2 linked regions of the Homo sapiens genome follow. The protein of the gene in region 2 purifies or fractionates together with the protein of the main gene of each other region. This does not show direct contact. Each region holds a gene or a part of one and is shown on either strand. Other genes may lie near its edges.

What was found. The genes of interacting proteins can lie anywhere in the genome.
Region 1: the proteins of LIMA1 (region 2) and NEXN purify together in Homo sapiens (affinity purification with mass spectrometry; 2 studies listed by BioGRID and IntAct, with this or other methods). This does not show direct contact.

What each region holds. Positions count from the first base shown.
Region 1 is NC_000001.11:77,912,624-77,920,277, reverse strand, and holds part of NEXN (nexilin), read right to left. Parts: intron 4,224-7,654; 5' UTR 4,172-4,223; coding exon 4,145-4,171; intron 2,713-4,144; coding exon 2,521-2,712; intron 2,319-2,520; coding exon 2,240-2,318; intron 2,154-2,239; coding exon 2,005-2,153; intron 1-2,004. UniProt on the Homo sapiens protein: Involved in regulating cell migration through association with the actin cytoskeleton. Has an essential role in the maintenance of Z line and sarcomere integrity.
Region 2 is NC_000012.12:50,174,866-50,183,173, reverse strand, and holds the end of LIMA1 (LIM domain and actin-binding protein 1), read left to right. Parts: intron 1-1,136; coding exon 1,137-1,270; intron 1,271-5,104; coding exon 5,105-6,110; 3' UTR 6,111-7,386; downstream 7,387-8,308. UniProt on the Homo sapiens protein: Actin-binding protein involved in actin cytoskeleton regulation and dynamics. Increases the number and size of actin stress fibers and inhibits membrane ruffling. Inhibits actin filament depolymerization.

The DNA.
Region 1 (7,654 bases), on a different chromosome or scaffold from region 2:
AAATTATATTGGAGTACAGTGGAAAATGTACTTAATTAGATTTGAAAATTAAACTTTACATATTTACAAGATAAAATTACTAGGCCGGGTGCGGTGGCTCATGCCTGTAATCATTTTGGGAGGCCGAGGTGGGCAGATCATCTGAGATCAGAAGTTCAAGACCAGCCTGGCCAACATGGTGAAACCCTATCTCTACTAAAAATACAAAAAAATTAGCTGGGAGTGGTGGCATGTGCCTTAGTCCTAGCTACTCGGGAGACTGAAGCAGGATAATCGCTTGAATCCGGGAGGCAGAGGTTGCAGTGAGCCGAGATTTTGCCACTGCACTCCAGCCTGGGTGACAGAGCGAGACTCCGTCTCAATTAAAAAAAAAAAAAGAGGCCAGTGCGGTGACTCACGCCTGTAATCCCAGCACTTTGGGATGCCAAGGCAGGTAGATCACCTGAGGTCAGGAATTCAAGACCAACCTGGCCAACATGGCGAAACCCCGTCTCCACTAAAAATACAAAAATTAGCCAGACGTGGTGGCAGGCACCTGTAATCCCTGCTACTCAGGAGGTTGAGACAGGAGAATCGCTTCAACCTGGGTGGTGGAGGTTGCAGTGAGCCAAGATTGCACCGAGCCAGGACTGCGCCATTGCACTCCAGCCTGGGCGACAAGAGCAAAACTCCGTCTCAAAAAAAAAAAAAAAAAATGACTGACCTGCTGGATTTCAGACTTGCATGGGCCATGTAACCCCTTTGTTTTGGATGATTTCTCCCATTTGGAACTGCTGTATTTACCCAATACCTGTACCCCACTTTGCAAATCCAGGGTAAATACATTTCTTTAGTATGCAAGTATAGCATATGCTTTGCTTTCATCGTCACTTTTCTTTTCAGAAAGGTAATGGAAACTGAAGGCAGCATAGCAAAAAGACTGAAAGCACTTAATGTATGCCTTAAAAGACCAGCTGATATGGTTTGGCTCTGTGTCCCCACCCAAATCTCATCTTGAATTGTACTCCCATAATTCCCACGTGTTGTGGGAGGGACCTGGTGGGAGATAATTTGAATCATGGGGATGGGGGTGGTTTCCCCCATCCTGTTCTCATGGTAGTGAATAAGTCTCATGAGATCTGATGGTTTTATCAGAGGTTTCCGCTTTTGCATCTTCCTCATTTTCTCTTGCCACCGCTACGTAAGAAGTACCTTTCACCTCCCGCCATGATTCTGAGGACTCCTCAGCCAAGTGGAACTGTAAGTCCAATTAAACCTCTTTTCTTTCCCAGTCTTGTGTATGTCTTTATCAGCAGCATGAAAACAGACTAATATACCAGCATTTAAAAGTATTGTTATTAGAAGACCAGCACTTTGTTAGGTACTCATGGATAGTTTATATGTGAAATTGCCTTACATCTTTGTAAAATTCTCTAACTTGTAAAGAAAAATAAGGAATGTAGACGGGGTGAGGAATGTGGATAGAGCGGTAAGATTGTATATGATACAAATCATCTCACTATTCTACCTTAAAATAGGCATATTCTGCCCATGTCCTTCTAGGCATCTGATGTTAAATATTTTTCCTGCAGATCTTTTCAGGTTAGCTGCCTTTTTTTTTTTTTTTTTTCTTTGAGATAGGTCTTGCCCTGTCACCCAGGCTGGAGTCCAGTGGCATGATCTTGGCTCACTGCAACTTCCACCTTTCAGGCTCAAGCGAACCTCCTACCTCAGCCTTCTGAATAGCTGGGACTACAGGCACTTGCCACCATGCCCAGCTAATTTTTGTATTTTTTTGTAGAGACAGGATTTTGCCATGTTGCCCGGGCTGATGTCGAAGCGATCCACCCAGCTTGGCCTCCCAAAGTGCTGAGATTACAGAGGTGAGCCACCATTCCCAGACGGTTAGCTGCTTTTTAATAGGTTTATGTTACATTAAAATATTTTAATTAGGCAACATACTGATTAGTTTTACTTTGCACAGTTAGTTTCAGAAACAAATACGAACTTAATCTTCAGTGATACCTGTTCAGCCCTTTTTGCTAATTCACGCTGTATTTTCCTCTTTTCTAACATATCCTGCTCAATTCTGCGTTTTCGTTCCTCCTCCGTTCTCTTCCTTTGTTCCTCTTGTCTTTGTTTCTCCATTTCAGCAAATCTACCCTTCACAGTTCCTAAAAATATATGAAAAAAAAGTTTGATACTTGGTTATGTTTCTATTTTGCAATTTAATTTACTATTTACCCCTCAAGCTTCTTACCTGTTAATTTTGGAACATAAGCCTTTTCTACTTTAGAAGATACATCTTCCTCATCATCAGAAGCAAGCATTTCTTTAATCTAGATGGTTAAATAAATTAATGTGAGCACATGTCCAAAAATTAGACTAAATCACATTATATGCAGAGTTTAAATTAGGTTACAAATACAGAAAAGTATTTTAGTTATAGTTAATGTGAAATGTGGTTAATGTGAATAAATACAATTTAAATGAAAAAATGCAAACAAATATTTTCACGAGAATAAAGTAAAATAAAATAACCTCCTGCTTTCTCCTGTTCCATTCTCTCTCTCTAATATATTGTTCTTTTCTTCTTTGTTTTTCGTCTCTAGATCTCCTTTGATTTCTTTCTTCCCTGGCTCTCTGCATGGCTTCAAACTTATCCTTTACATCACCCTTGCCAAGTTTTGGTACATAGGTTTTTGGGACAGGTTTAGATGAAGAAAGCAGAATCTTCATTAGAAGAAAATAAAAAAAAGAAAGTTAACGAAAAAGATAGGAAGAAATTAGGTAAAGATAGATAAGAATAAGCAATATAAAAAATATTTATTGAAACAGAAAATAGAAATGTGTTTGAACCCTTTATTTGACCATCACAACCTGATTAGATACTTTCTAAAACCTAACTATGAAAAATGACATTACAGAAAATATGAGAGTAGAAATTTCACTGTTATATAGTAATGAAATCTCATTTTGTGGGTAGCATTCCACTGAAGCTGAAAGCCAGTAAAATATAAAAATCAAATTCTGAATTCTAATTAAAAACAACTGTCTTTTATTGTCTAACTCCATTATTAAAGATTCAGATTTGATATCACTTGCTAAAAAAGTACCCAAACTAATTTCAGTAAATTTGGTGAAGTTGAAAACAAAGCAAAAGTTTAGGCTTTAAAGTTTGAGCCTAATTCACATTTTACCCCCTTCCTGGTTTCTATATCCAATATAAGCAAAACCAAAGGCCAGTCCTTTAGTCCTTATTTGTGGCTGAGGTACACCGTGGTCTGTGTGCACAAGCTGTGATTTATGTTGTTACTATTACTTCCCATCTATAACTTCTTTAAGCCACATTAAAAATGTGTAAGAAGGCTATATCATTCTATATGGGGGCGGGCTGTAAGAGGAATTCCATATGGCAACAGCTTCACAAAGAATGGGAATCTGGTAGAAGACTGAAGAAATGATTTTCCTCCACTCTAAAACCAGAAGAGCAAATTATTTTCACCACTTTGAAAATTAAGCTGATTTCTAAATGAAATTTCAGTAAATAAAATGTGTGCCTCAGAACACCAAATCCTTTTTCCTAGTGATAATGACAATTACTTAATTAATTTGTGGCACATCCAACTTGTATTTTATAATCTATTATGTGTCATTGGCCATTTAAGGGTTAACTTTATAATTCTGAGGTGTCAGCAACTGAGCTCTTCTTACAACTCTCAGTATCTACAGTCAAGAACCAGAAGAAAGCTAAAAATTAAAATATATATATAAGGCACTAAAAAGGTTCCTTACCTAAGAGGGAATTATGTTTTCTCCTATGAGTATAGGTCAAACTTTGTTTTAATACTAAAATAATAATTTCTAAGAGTTATCAAGAACAAAATATTTAAAATTCTACTCAGAATGCTAGCTATCACATCCACTTCACTATCATTCACAAATTTACTACTCATGCTTTGTAGAATTTCCTAGAACCCAAATGAAAATACTAGCCCAAGACCAGCTGGTGAATTGTATCTCTTCTTGTTTTACATCTTGCCATTATGTTATTAATTATGAACTCCTAAATATGACCTTTCCACCAAATGACTGTCCTTTCAGCAATTCTACAGTCAACTCTACATTTCCCTCTTTTATTTTTATTTTTACTTTTGAGACTTACCTCAGCCTTTTGGGAAATATCATTCATGTTTGCTCTATGTGGTCTTGGGCTGATTATGAAGCTCTGTATATATTTGCACCTGAAAAAAATTTATATTGTATAATAAATTTTAATTTATTTGTAATATATTATGTATTTTTATAAATAGAAATAGCAGTTAATTGCCCCTCAAAAAATACTGACATGATTCAAGCAAGTAATAAATTGTGATAACCTTTAGCTCTTTTTCCCAAGATTCATGGTATAGAAAACATAAGGTGCATGATGGTAAAAGATCCCTGAAAGTTTTTGATCCAGAATAGCTTGATGAACATACTAAGTTCACTTGAAAAGAATGTGTATTCAGCAATTACTGAGTGTATTACTCTATAAATATTAACTAGCTGAAGGTAGTTGATCATGTTTTAGATCTGTATTTTTACTAATTTTTGGCTATTTCTATCAATCTTCAACTATGTAGTTTTTTGTTTGCTTGTTTTGTTTTGTTTTGTTTTTGTTTTTGTTTTGAGATGAAATCTCACTCTGTCGCCCAGGCTGGAGTGCAGTGGCGCCATCTCGCTCACTGCAAGCTCTGCCTCCCGGGTTCACACCATTCTCCCACTTCAGCCTCCCGAGTAGCTGGGACTACAGGCGTGTGCCGCCACGTCCGGCTAATTTTTTGTATTTTTAGTAGAGACGGGGTTTCACCGTGTTAGCCAGGATGGTCTCAATCTCCTGACCTCGTGATCCGCCTGCCTCGGCCTCCCAAAGTGCTGGGATTACAGGCATGAGCCACCATGCCCGGCCACCAGCTTTCTTTTTATTTATACATTTATTTTTTAGAGACAGCATCTCGCTGTGTCACCCAGGCTGAAGTACAGTGGCACAATGACAGTTCACTGTACCCTTGAACTCCTGGGCTCAAGCGATCCTCCTTCCTCAGCCTCCCAAGTAGCTGGGACTACAGGCATGCAGCACTATGCCCAGCTCTTTTTTTTTTCTCTATAGAAATGGGGTCTCACTGTGTTGTTTAGACTGGTTTTGAAACCCTGGGCTCAAGCAACTCTCCCACCTTGGCCTCCAGAAGTGCTAGGATTGCATCCGTGAGCCACTGCATCTGGCCCCCAACTTTCTTAGGTTTACAGTTTGCATGGTATATAATTTTCTAGCTATTTACTTTCACTCTATCTATGTTTTTATATGTAAAGCATATGTCTTGGACACAGCATATGTTTGGACCTTGCTTTTTACAAAAATCAATTCTGATAAAATCTGGGTTTTCTTTTTTTTTTTTTTTGAGACGTAGTTTCGCTCTTGTTGCCCAGGCTGGAGTGCAGTGGCATGATCTCGGCTCACTGCAACCTCCGCCTTCCAGTTTCAAGCGATTCTCCTGCCTCAGCCTCCTGAGTAGCTGGGATTACAGGCTCCCACCACCACACCCAGCTAATTTTTGTATTTTTAGTAGAGATGGGGTTTCACCATGTTGGCTAGGCTGGTCTCGAACTCCTGACCTTGTGATCCACCCACCTAGGCCTCCCAAAGTGCTGGGATTACAGGCGTGAGCCACCGTGCCAGGCCTAAAATCTGTTTTTTTAATTGCAGCATTTAGTTCATTAACATTTAATGTAATTATTAATATCAATGAGTTTAGGCCTATCATTTAAATATTTATTTTAGGTTTGTTTTATCTTGTTTTGTTTTTTTCTTTTGGAATTTTCTAGCCAACTTTTTTTTTAATAGAGTTTATTTTAGGTTCACAGCAAAATTGAGTAGAAGATAGAGATTTCCTGTATATGTTCTGTCCCTGCACATGCTTAGTCACCCCCATTATCAACACTGGATAACCCCATTATTACCACCTATTGGAGTGGTACATTTGTTATAAATGATGAACCTATACTGACACATCATTATCACCCAGAGTCCATAGTTTACATTAGGGTTTACTCCTGAGTTGTACATTCTGTGGGTTTTGGGTAAATGTACAATGACATGTGTCCATCATTACAGTATTGCACAGAGCAGTTTCACTGACCTAAAAGTCCTCTTTACTCCACTTACTTATGCTTTTCTCCCCCATAATTCCTGGTAACCATGATCTTTTTACTGTCTTCATAGTTTTGACTTTTCCAGAATGTCATACAGTTGGAACCACACAGTATGTAGCCTTTTCATATTGACTTTTTTCACATAGTTATGTGCATTTCAGTTTCCTCTATGTTTTTCATGGCTTGATAGCTCATTTCTTTTTAGCACTGAATAATATTCTATTACCTGCATGTACCACAGTTTATCCATTCACCTACCAAATGACATCTTGGTTGTTTCCAAGTTTTGGTGTTTATGAATAAAGTTGACATAAATATCTGTATGCAGGTTCTTGTGGACCATGATTACTGGATTATATGGTAAGAGCATATTTAGTATTATAAGAAACCACCATGTAGCTTACCACTTTGCATTCCCACCAGCAATGAATGAGAGTTCATATTGCTCCATATCCTCACCTGCATTTGATGTTGTCAGTGTTCTGAATTTTGGCCATTCTAATAGATGTGGAGTGGTATTTCATTGTCATTTTTATTTGCATTTCCTTGAATATATATTAAATGAATAAATATTAAATTAGAATTATATTAAATAATATATTAAAGCACCTTTTCATATGTTTATTTGCCATCTGTATCTTCTTCAGTGAGATGTCTCCTAAGATCTTTGTTTGGTCCATTTTTTTTTTTTTGAGATGGAGTCTTGCACTGTCACCCAGGCTAGAGAGCAGTGGCATGATCTCGGCTCACTGCAACCTCCGCCTCCCGGGTTCAAGCAATTCTCCTGTCTCAGCCTCCCGAGCAGCTGGGACTACAGGCACCTGCCACCACACCCGGCTAATTTTTGTATTTGTAGTAGAGATGGGGTTTCGCTATATTGGTCAGGCTGGTCTCAAACTCCTGACCTCAGGTGATCCGCCCACCTCGGCCTCCCAAAGTGCTGGGATTGCAGGCGTGAGCCACTGTCCCCAGCCCTTTGGTCCATTTTTTAATTGGGTTGTTTGTATTCTTATTACAGAGTTGTAAGAGTTCTTTGTGTATTTTGGATAACAGTCCTTTATCTGATATGTCACTTGCAAATATTTTCTCCAAGTCTATGGCTTATTTTTTAATTCTTTTCACAGTGTCTTTTGCAGAACAGAATTTTTTAATTTTAATGAAGTCCAGCTTATCAATTCTTTCTTTCATGAATTGTGACTTTGGTATCATAGCTAAAAAGTGAACTCCAAATCTGAGGTCATCTAGATTTCTGTCTATGTTTTCTTCTAGGAGTTTTATAGTTCTATGCTGTAAGTCTGTGATTCATTTTGAGTTAATTTTTGTGAAGAATGTAAGGTCTATTTCTAGATTCAGTTTTTTGCAAGTGGATGTCCAGTTGTTCCAGCACCATTTGTTGAAAATAATCTTTTCTCTATTTTATTGCCTTTGCTCCTTTGTCAAAGATCAGTTGATTATATTTACGTGGATCTATTTCTGGGCTCTC
Region 2 (8,308 bases):
CTGGAGTGCAGTGGCGCCATCTCGGCTCACTACAAGCTCTGCCTCCCGGGTTCACGCCATTCTCCTGCCTCAGCCTCCCGAGTAACTGGGATTACACGAGTGTACCACTACGCCTGCCTAATTTTTGTATTTTTACTGGAGACGGGGTTTCACCATGTTGGCCAGGCTGGTCTCGAACTCCTGACCTCATGATCCGCCCACCTCGGCCTCCTAAAGTGCTGGGATTACAAGCATGAGCCACCGCACCTGGCCCATGTAACTATTTCTTATCATGTGAAAGCTTATAATATTTTTGGAGTTCTGGCTTTTATCAGTGCTAGAATACCAACTGTTTTATATTCTTTAGGATTGAGTTTATCAGGTAGAACCACTGTGCCCATGTTTGTTCCAACTTTACAAACAGTTCATGAATTCCCAGTCATTAATACATTAACCAGTGTGTTTCCCATTGCATTAGTTTTTCTCTCCATTGGTTTTTAGAAATATTATAGAACCTATAGCTTTAATGGGCTATGCTTCCCTCTGGTGTCCTAATAAAATACTTTGTGTCTCTTATAAATTGTTCCACTTGTGTGTCAGTTTTGACTTGTTTAAAAATAGTATGTCTAGTTGATTGAACAAATCAAGATTATAAGCAGAGCAGAATAAAAGGGGCTTTACTGAAATGTCTTTCCTAATTCCCAAAGCCAAATGCTCTTCCTCTCCTTGAAATTTATCCCCTTTAGAATCTGTCTTGTGTTTACTTGGCACTTGAATCAAACTTCTTTCTTCTGTGTGTGATAACATTTTCTCCTAATCCCTGCACTCCCCCCCCCGACCCCTTCCCCCATCCCCTGCTCCTAACATTTTTTATGTGGGTCGTGACTTGTCTAAGCCATTCTTTGTAATCCAGACGTAGCTCCACCTATCCTTGGTGGCTGCTACATTTAGAGCAGCCACACAGTTTGGGAAGGGAATATCAAGAGAGCCTCTTGGCTTTAAAGAGTCAGCTGATAGAATTGTAGCAGGTTTAGTGCTCCATGAGAATTGACTGACCAGCTAAGGGAGCCCTTAGACAAAGTAAATTCTAGGGTCCATCTCAAGACAGTGCTAACTCATCGCTGCCCATGCTAAAGTTGTCTTTTTGTTTTTCCTAGAAGTTTCAGGCACCTGCAAGAGAGACCTGCGTGGAATGTCAGAAGACAGTCTATCCAATGGAGCGTCTCTTGGCCAACCAGCAGGTGTTTCACATCAGCTGCTTCCGTTGCTCCTATTGCAACAACAAACTCAGGTAAGTCAGCCCAAAACAAGCCATCTGTCTATAACTGGAACTCTAGAGGGAGTCTTTGGCTTTTAGAGCACTGGTGCTAAAAGCTACTGTGCTAATGATATTCTGTTGAAGGCTCTTGAATAAAGTAAAAAGCATCATTTAGTGACAAGTCTTTCATACCAAATAATGATGGTGTTTGGAACTTCTTGGTGTATTGATATGTTAATTTACATGTTAGGACCGAAGCTTAAATAATATGAGTTGCAGGTAAACCCCCCTGTGACCTAATTTAATAGAATGTTTTCCCTTGGTATCACAGAATCACAAAGTTAAGAAATCTCAAGAGGTTACTTGTTTAAGCCCTTACTTGTCTTAACCACTGTATAAATGATAATAATGGCAATAATAATAGCCCCTGGAGAGCATGTCTTTTTCTCTATGTTGCCTCACTTTATTTCTGAGAAAATAGTTGTTACATATCATTTCTTCCAAGTAACTCAAAGTGCAAATATAAATGTGACAAATCGGGGAAACATTCCAAATTAACTCATTTTAATCATAGAGTCTTACAGAAGGAAGTAACCAAGATGTCACTTTCTCCAGCTTTCCTTTCTGAGCAATCCTTCCTAAAATACTCTTGAAAGATGTTTTGGCATCTGTGTGACATTTCTAGCTATTAGATAGCTCTAGCTAGACAGCTTCTCCAAACATGCAGCCAAAGTGTACCTCAGTCACTTCCACTCATTAGTTCTTCTGCTGCCCACTGTGTTAATTTTTTTCTCCAAAGCACCTTTTTTTTTTTTTTTTTTTTTGGATACAGAGTCTCACTCTGTTGCCCAGGGTGGAGTGCAGTGGCGTGATCTCAGCTCACTGCAACCTCTACCTCCTGAGTTCAAGCGATTCTCCTGCCTCAGCCTCCCAAGTAGCTGGGACTACAGGCGCCCGCCACCACACCCAGCTAATTTTTTGTATTTTTAGTAGAGAAGGGGTTTCACCATGTTAGCCAGGATGGTCTTGATCTCCTGACCTCGTGATCCACCCGCCTCGGCCTCCCAAAGTGCTGAGATTATAGGTGTGAGCCACTGTGCCTGGCTTAAAGCACCTTATTTCTTTTGTGGAAGTGCTGCCGTTTTATACCCCCTTTAACATTTGTCACTCTTCAGAATGGTTCGTAACTTAAGGGAAAAAACTTTAAAAAGATAAAACTTATCATCCTGCAAGAGACACCAAATCTCCTAAAGGCTTGTCTAGGACTGACATTAGGGAAAAACTACCTCCTGTCAACTCCTCACCATTCTTCTATTAATCAAGCTTATATCTAGGTGTGGATATAAGGATCACACCTGTAATCCTAGCATTTTGGGAGTGCCCAGGTAGGAGGATCACTTGATGCCAGAAGTTCAAGACTAGCCTGGGTAACATAGAGAGACCCCATCTGGTTTTTCTTTTTGAGATGGAGTCTCACTCTGTTGCCCAGGCTGGAGTGCAGTGGTGTGATCCTGGCTCACTGCAACCTTTGTCTCCCAGGTTCAAGCGATTCTCATGCCTCAGTCTCCTGAGTAGCTGGGATTACAGGCGGGCACCACCACGCCCAGCTAATTTCTTTCTTTTTTTTTTTTTTTCCGGAGATGGAGTCTTGCTCTGTCGCCCAGGCTGGAGTGCAGTGGGATGATGTCAGCTCACTGCAACCTCCACCTCCCAGGTTCAAGCAATTCTCCTGCCTCAGCCTCCCGAGTGGTTGGGACTACAGGCGTGTGCAACATGCCTGGCTAATTTTTGTATTTTTCATAGAGATGAGGTTTCACCATGTTAGCCACGCTGGTCTTGAACTCCTGACCTCAGTCAGTCTGCCCTCCTCGGCCTCCCAAAGTGCTGGGATTACAGGTGTGAGCAACCACGCCTGGCCAATTTTTGTATTTCTTAGTAGAGATGGGGTTTCACCATGTTGGTCAGGCTGGTCTCAAACTTCTGACCTCAAGTGATCTGCCCACCTCGGCCTCCCAAAGTGCTGGGACTGCACCTGGCCGGAGATCCCATCTCTATGAAAAATTTGGGGAGGCTGAGACTGAGGCTGGAGGATCACTTGAGCCCTGGAGGTCAAGGCTGCAGTGAGCTATGATCATACCATTGCACTCCAGCCTGGGTGACAGAGCAAGACCTCCACTCAAAAAAAAAAACAACAAAAAATGGCTGGGTGCAGTTGCTCATGCCTGTAATCCCAGCACTTTGGGAGGCCGAGGTGGGCAGATCACGAGGTCAGGAGATTGAGACCATCCTGGCTAACAAGGTGAAACCCCGTCTCTACTAAAAATACAAAATATTAGTCAGGTGTGGTGGCGAGTGCCTGTAGTCCCAGCTACTCGGGAGGCTGAGGCAGGAGAATGGCGTGAACCTGGGAGGCGGAGCTTGCAGTGAGCTGAGATCGTGTCACTGCACTCCAGCCTGGGTGACAGAGCGAGACTCTGTCTCAAAAAAAAACAAAAATGGCTGGGCGTGGTGGCTCACGCCTGTAATCCCAGCCCTTTGGGAGGCCGAGGCGGGCAGATCACGAGGTCAAGAGATCGAGACTATCCTGGCCAACATGGTGAAACCCCGTCTCTACTAAAAATACAAAAATTTGCCGTGCATGGTGGCACACACCTGTAGTCCCAACTACTCAGGAGGCTGAGGTAGGAGAATCGCTTGAACCCAGGAGGCAGAGGTTGCAGTGAGCTGAGATCATGCCACTGCACTCCAGCCTGGCGACAGAGCGAGACTCTAACAAAACAAAACAATACAAAAATTAGCCAGGCGTGGTGGCGCACTCCTGTAATCCCAGCTACTCAGGAGGCTGAGGCAGGAGAATTGCTTAAACTTGGGAGGCGGAGGTTGCAGTGAGCCAAGATTGTGCAACTGCACTCCAGCCTGGGCGACAGAGCGAGATTCTCTCAAAAAAAGAAAAGAAAAAGAAAAAAAAAATATATATATATATATGTATTTATATACCGTTAAGAATAGAGTTAATTCAAGCACAAAAGCTTGATGATGGCTACCCAGAAACACTGACTCCAAATGAATGGGGTCAGCATTCCAAAGTGGAGAAAGTTAGTTTCACTTACACAGAAATTTTAGCAAAGATTATGACATTTTTCATATAAGACCAGTGCATATACCACAGTGATTTGATTGGGTACAGATTGGTACATTCCAAGGAAGATTATCACTCGCAAAGAAGGGATAGTGATCTGAGGGGGTCTTATCTCTGGTGCCCTTTGGTCTTCATAATTTATAGTGAAAAGAAAGAGTTGCAGCTACATGCTGTGTGACCCAGGTTGCATAGCCACATTCCTCTCAAGGCTCAGAATGATTTAAAGTTTCTATTACTGTTGGTTTTTTTTTCTTTTTTTTTTTTTTTAAGACAGTCTCGCTCTATCACAGTGGCACAATCTCAGCTCACTGCAACCTCTGCCTCCCGGGTTCAAGTGATTCTCCCACTTCAGCTTCCCAAGTAGCTGAGACTACAGGCATGTGCCACCACACCCAGCTAATTTTTAAATTTTTTGTAGAGATGAATTCTCACTATGTTGGCCGGGCTGGTCTCAAACTCCTGGGCTCAAGCGATCCTCTCACCCTGGCCTCCCAAAGCGCTGGGATTACAGGCATGAGCCACTGCACCCAACCCGTGCTTTGTGTTATGATAAGAAAACAAATGTGCTAAAATGGGGGTAAGGAATTCCTGGTCACTGAAGGGCTTTTAAAGATCTTTTTCTTACTTGGCATCTTCTGAAAATACTGGAATTGCCAGATTTTAGCCTCCTGGTATAAGTGAGAATGTGAAGATTTGCTAAGTTTATGCTTTTTTTCTTTTAATGACAGTCTAGGAACATATGCATCTTTACATGGAAGAATCTATTGTAAGCCTCACTTCAATCAACTCTTTAAATCTAAGGGCAACTATGATGAAGGCTTTGGGCACAGACCACACAAGGATCTATGGGCAAGCAAAAATGAAAACGAAGAGATTTTGGAGAGACCAGCCCAGCTTGCAAATGCAAGGGAGACCCCTCACAGCCCAGGGGTAGAAGATGCCCCTATTGCTAAGGTGGGTGTCCTGGCTGCAAGTATGGAAGCCAAGGCCTCCTCTCAGCAGGAGAAGGAAGACAAGCCAGCTGAAACCAAGAAGCTGAGGATCGCCTGGCCACCCCCCACTGAACTTGGAAGTTCAGGAAGTGCCTTGGAGGAAGGGATCAAAATGTCAAAGCCCAAATGGCCTCCTGAAGACGAAATCAGCAAGCCCGAAGTTCCTGAGGATGTCGATCTAGATCTGAAGAAGCTAAGACGATCTTCTTCACTGAAGGAAAGAAGCCGCCCATTCACTGTAGCAGCTTCATTTCAAAGCACCTCTGTCAAGAGCCCAAAAACTGTGTCCCCACCTATCAGGAAAGGCTGGAGCATGTCAGAGCAGAGTGAAGAGTCTGTGGGTGGAAGAGTTGCAGAAAGGAAACAAGTGGAAAATGCCAAGGCTTCTAAGAAGAATGGGAATGTGGGAAAAACAACCTGGCAAAACAAAGAATCTAAAGGAGAGACAGGGAAGAGAAGTAAGGAAGGTCATAGTTTGGAGATGGAGAATGAGAATCTTGTAGAAAATGGTGCAGACTCCGATGAAGATGATAACAGCTTCCTCAAACAACAATCTCCACAAGAACCCAAGTCTCTGAATTGGTCGAGTTTTGTAGACAACACCTTTGCTGAAGAATTCACTACTCAGAATCAGAAATCCCAGGATGTGGAACTCTGGGAGGGAGAAGTGGTCAAAGAGCTCTCTGTGGAAGAACAGATAAAGAGAAATCGGTATTATGATGAGGATGAGGATGAAGAGTGACAAATTGCAATGATGCTGGGCCTTAAATTCATGTTAGTGTTAGCGAGCCACTGCCCTTTGTCAAAATGTGATGCACATAAGCAGGTATCCCAGCATGAAATGTAATTTACTTGGAAGTAACTTTGGAAAAGAATTCCTTCTTAAAATCAAAAACAAAACAAAAAAACACAAAAAACACATTCTAAATACTAGAGATAACTTTACTTAAATTCTTCATTTTAGCAGTGATGATATGCATAAGTGCTGTAAGGCTTGTAACTGGGGAAATATTCCACCTGATAATAGCCCAGATTCTACTGTATTCCCAAAAGGCAATATTAAGGTAGACAGATGATTAGTAGTATATTGTTACACACTATTTTGGAATTAGAGAACATACAGAAGGAATTTAGGGGCTTAAACATTACGACTGAATGCACTTTAGTATAAAGGGCACAGTTTGTATATTTTTAAATGAATACCAATTTAATTTTTTAGTATTTACCTGTTAAGAGATTATTTAGTCTTTAAATTTTTTAGGTTAATTTTCTTGCTGTGATATATATGAGGAATTTACTACTTTATGTCCTGCTCTCTAAACTACATCCTGAACTCGACGTCCTGAGGTATAATACAACAGAGCACTTTTTGAGGCAATTGAAAAACCAACCTACACTCTTCGGTGCTTAGAGAGATCTGCTGTCTCCCAAATAAGCTTTTGTATCTGCCAGTGAATTTACTGTACTCCAAATGATTGCTTTCTTTTCTGGTGATATCTGTGCTTCTCATAATTACTGAAAGCTGCAATATTTTAGTAATACCTTCGGGATCACTGTCCCCCATCTTCCGTGTTAGAGCAAAGTGAAGAGTTTAAAGGAGGAAGAAGAAAGAACTGTCTTACACCACTTGAGCTCAGACCTCTAAACCCTGTATTTCCCTTATGATGTCCCCTTTTTGAGACACTAATTTTTAAATACTTACTAGCTCTGAAATATATTGATTTTTATCACAGTATTCTCAGGGTGAAATTAAACCAACTATAGGCCTTTTTCTTGGGATGATTTTCTAGTCTTAAGGTTTGGGGACATTATAAACTTGAGTACATTTGTTGTACACAGTTGATATTCCAAATTGTATGGATGGGAGGGAGAGGTGTCTTAAGCTGTAGGCTTTTCTTTGTACTGCATTTATAGAGATTTAGCTTTAATATTTTTTAGAGATGTAAAACATTCTGCTTTCTTAGTCTTACCTAGTCTGAAACATTTTTATTCAATAAAGATTTTAATTAAAATTTGAACTTTTCAATGTTTCTCTTCCATTATTTTCTTACGTTATTACTGTCTCTCAGGATCTACTTTTGCAGTTTGGGAAGAAAAAAATGGTACCACTTTTTTAAGTTTTAGTTGAATAGAAGCATTATCAATACATCTCACCACTAGATGGTAGTGTTGGGCTGATCTTGGATTTCAATCCTCCCTGAAGGAAGACAAATTTTTCTGGAAAATTGCAGGCAACTTGGCAAGAGAATTAATGTGTGCATTCAAAATGAGGTATTTTACCAATTCGAAATCTAGTGGTGGTTTTTATTGTTTATAACACTCAACATTGAATAATTCACCTTACAATTATGCCTAGCATGCTGAATGGATTTCCAAATGTCTCTGCTGAAAATGGACTTGTTTTTCACTTTAGGCAGATGCTTTTTTTTTTTTTTTTTTTTTGTAGACCGAGTCTTGCTCTGTCGCCCAGGCTACAGTACAGTGGCACCATCTCGGCTCACTTCAACCTCCGCCTCCCCGGTTCAAGTGATTCTCCTGCCTCAGACCTCCTGAGTAGCTGGGATTACAGGCGCCTGACACCACGCCCGGCTAATTTTTGTATTTTCAGTAGACTCAGGGTTTCACCATGTTGGCCAGGCTGGTCTCAAACTCCTGACCTCGTGAACCACCCACCTCGGCTTTCCAAAGTGCTGGGATTACGTAAGGTGTAAGCCACCGTGCCTGGCGCTTTTTTCTTTTTTTTCTTTTCTTTTTTTTTTTTTTTTTTTTTGTTGTTGTTGCTGTTTTAAGATCAATGTTTGGCCGGGTGCAGTGGCTCACGCCTGTAATCCCAGCACTTTGGGAGGCCGAGGCGGGCGGATCACGAGGTCAGGAGATCAAGACCATCCTGGCTTACATGGTGAAACCCCATCTCTACTAAAAATACAAAAAATTAGCCGG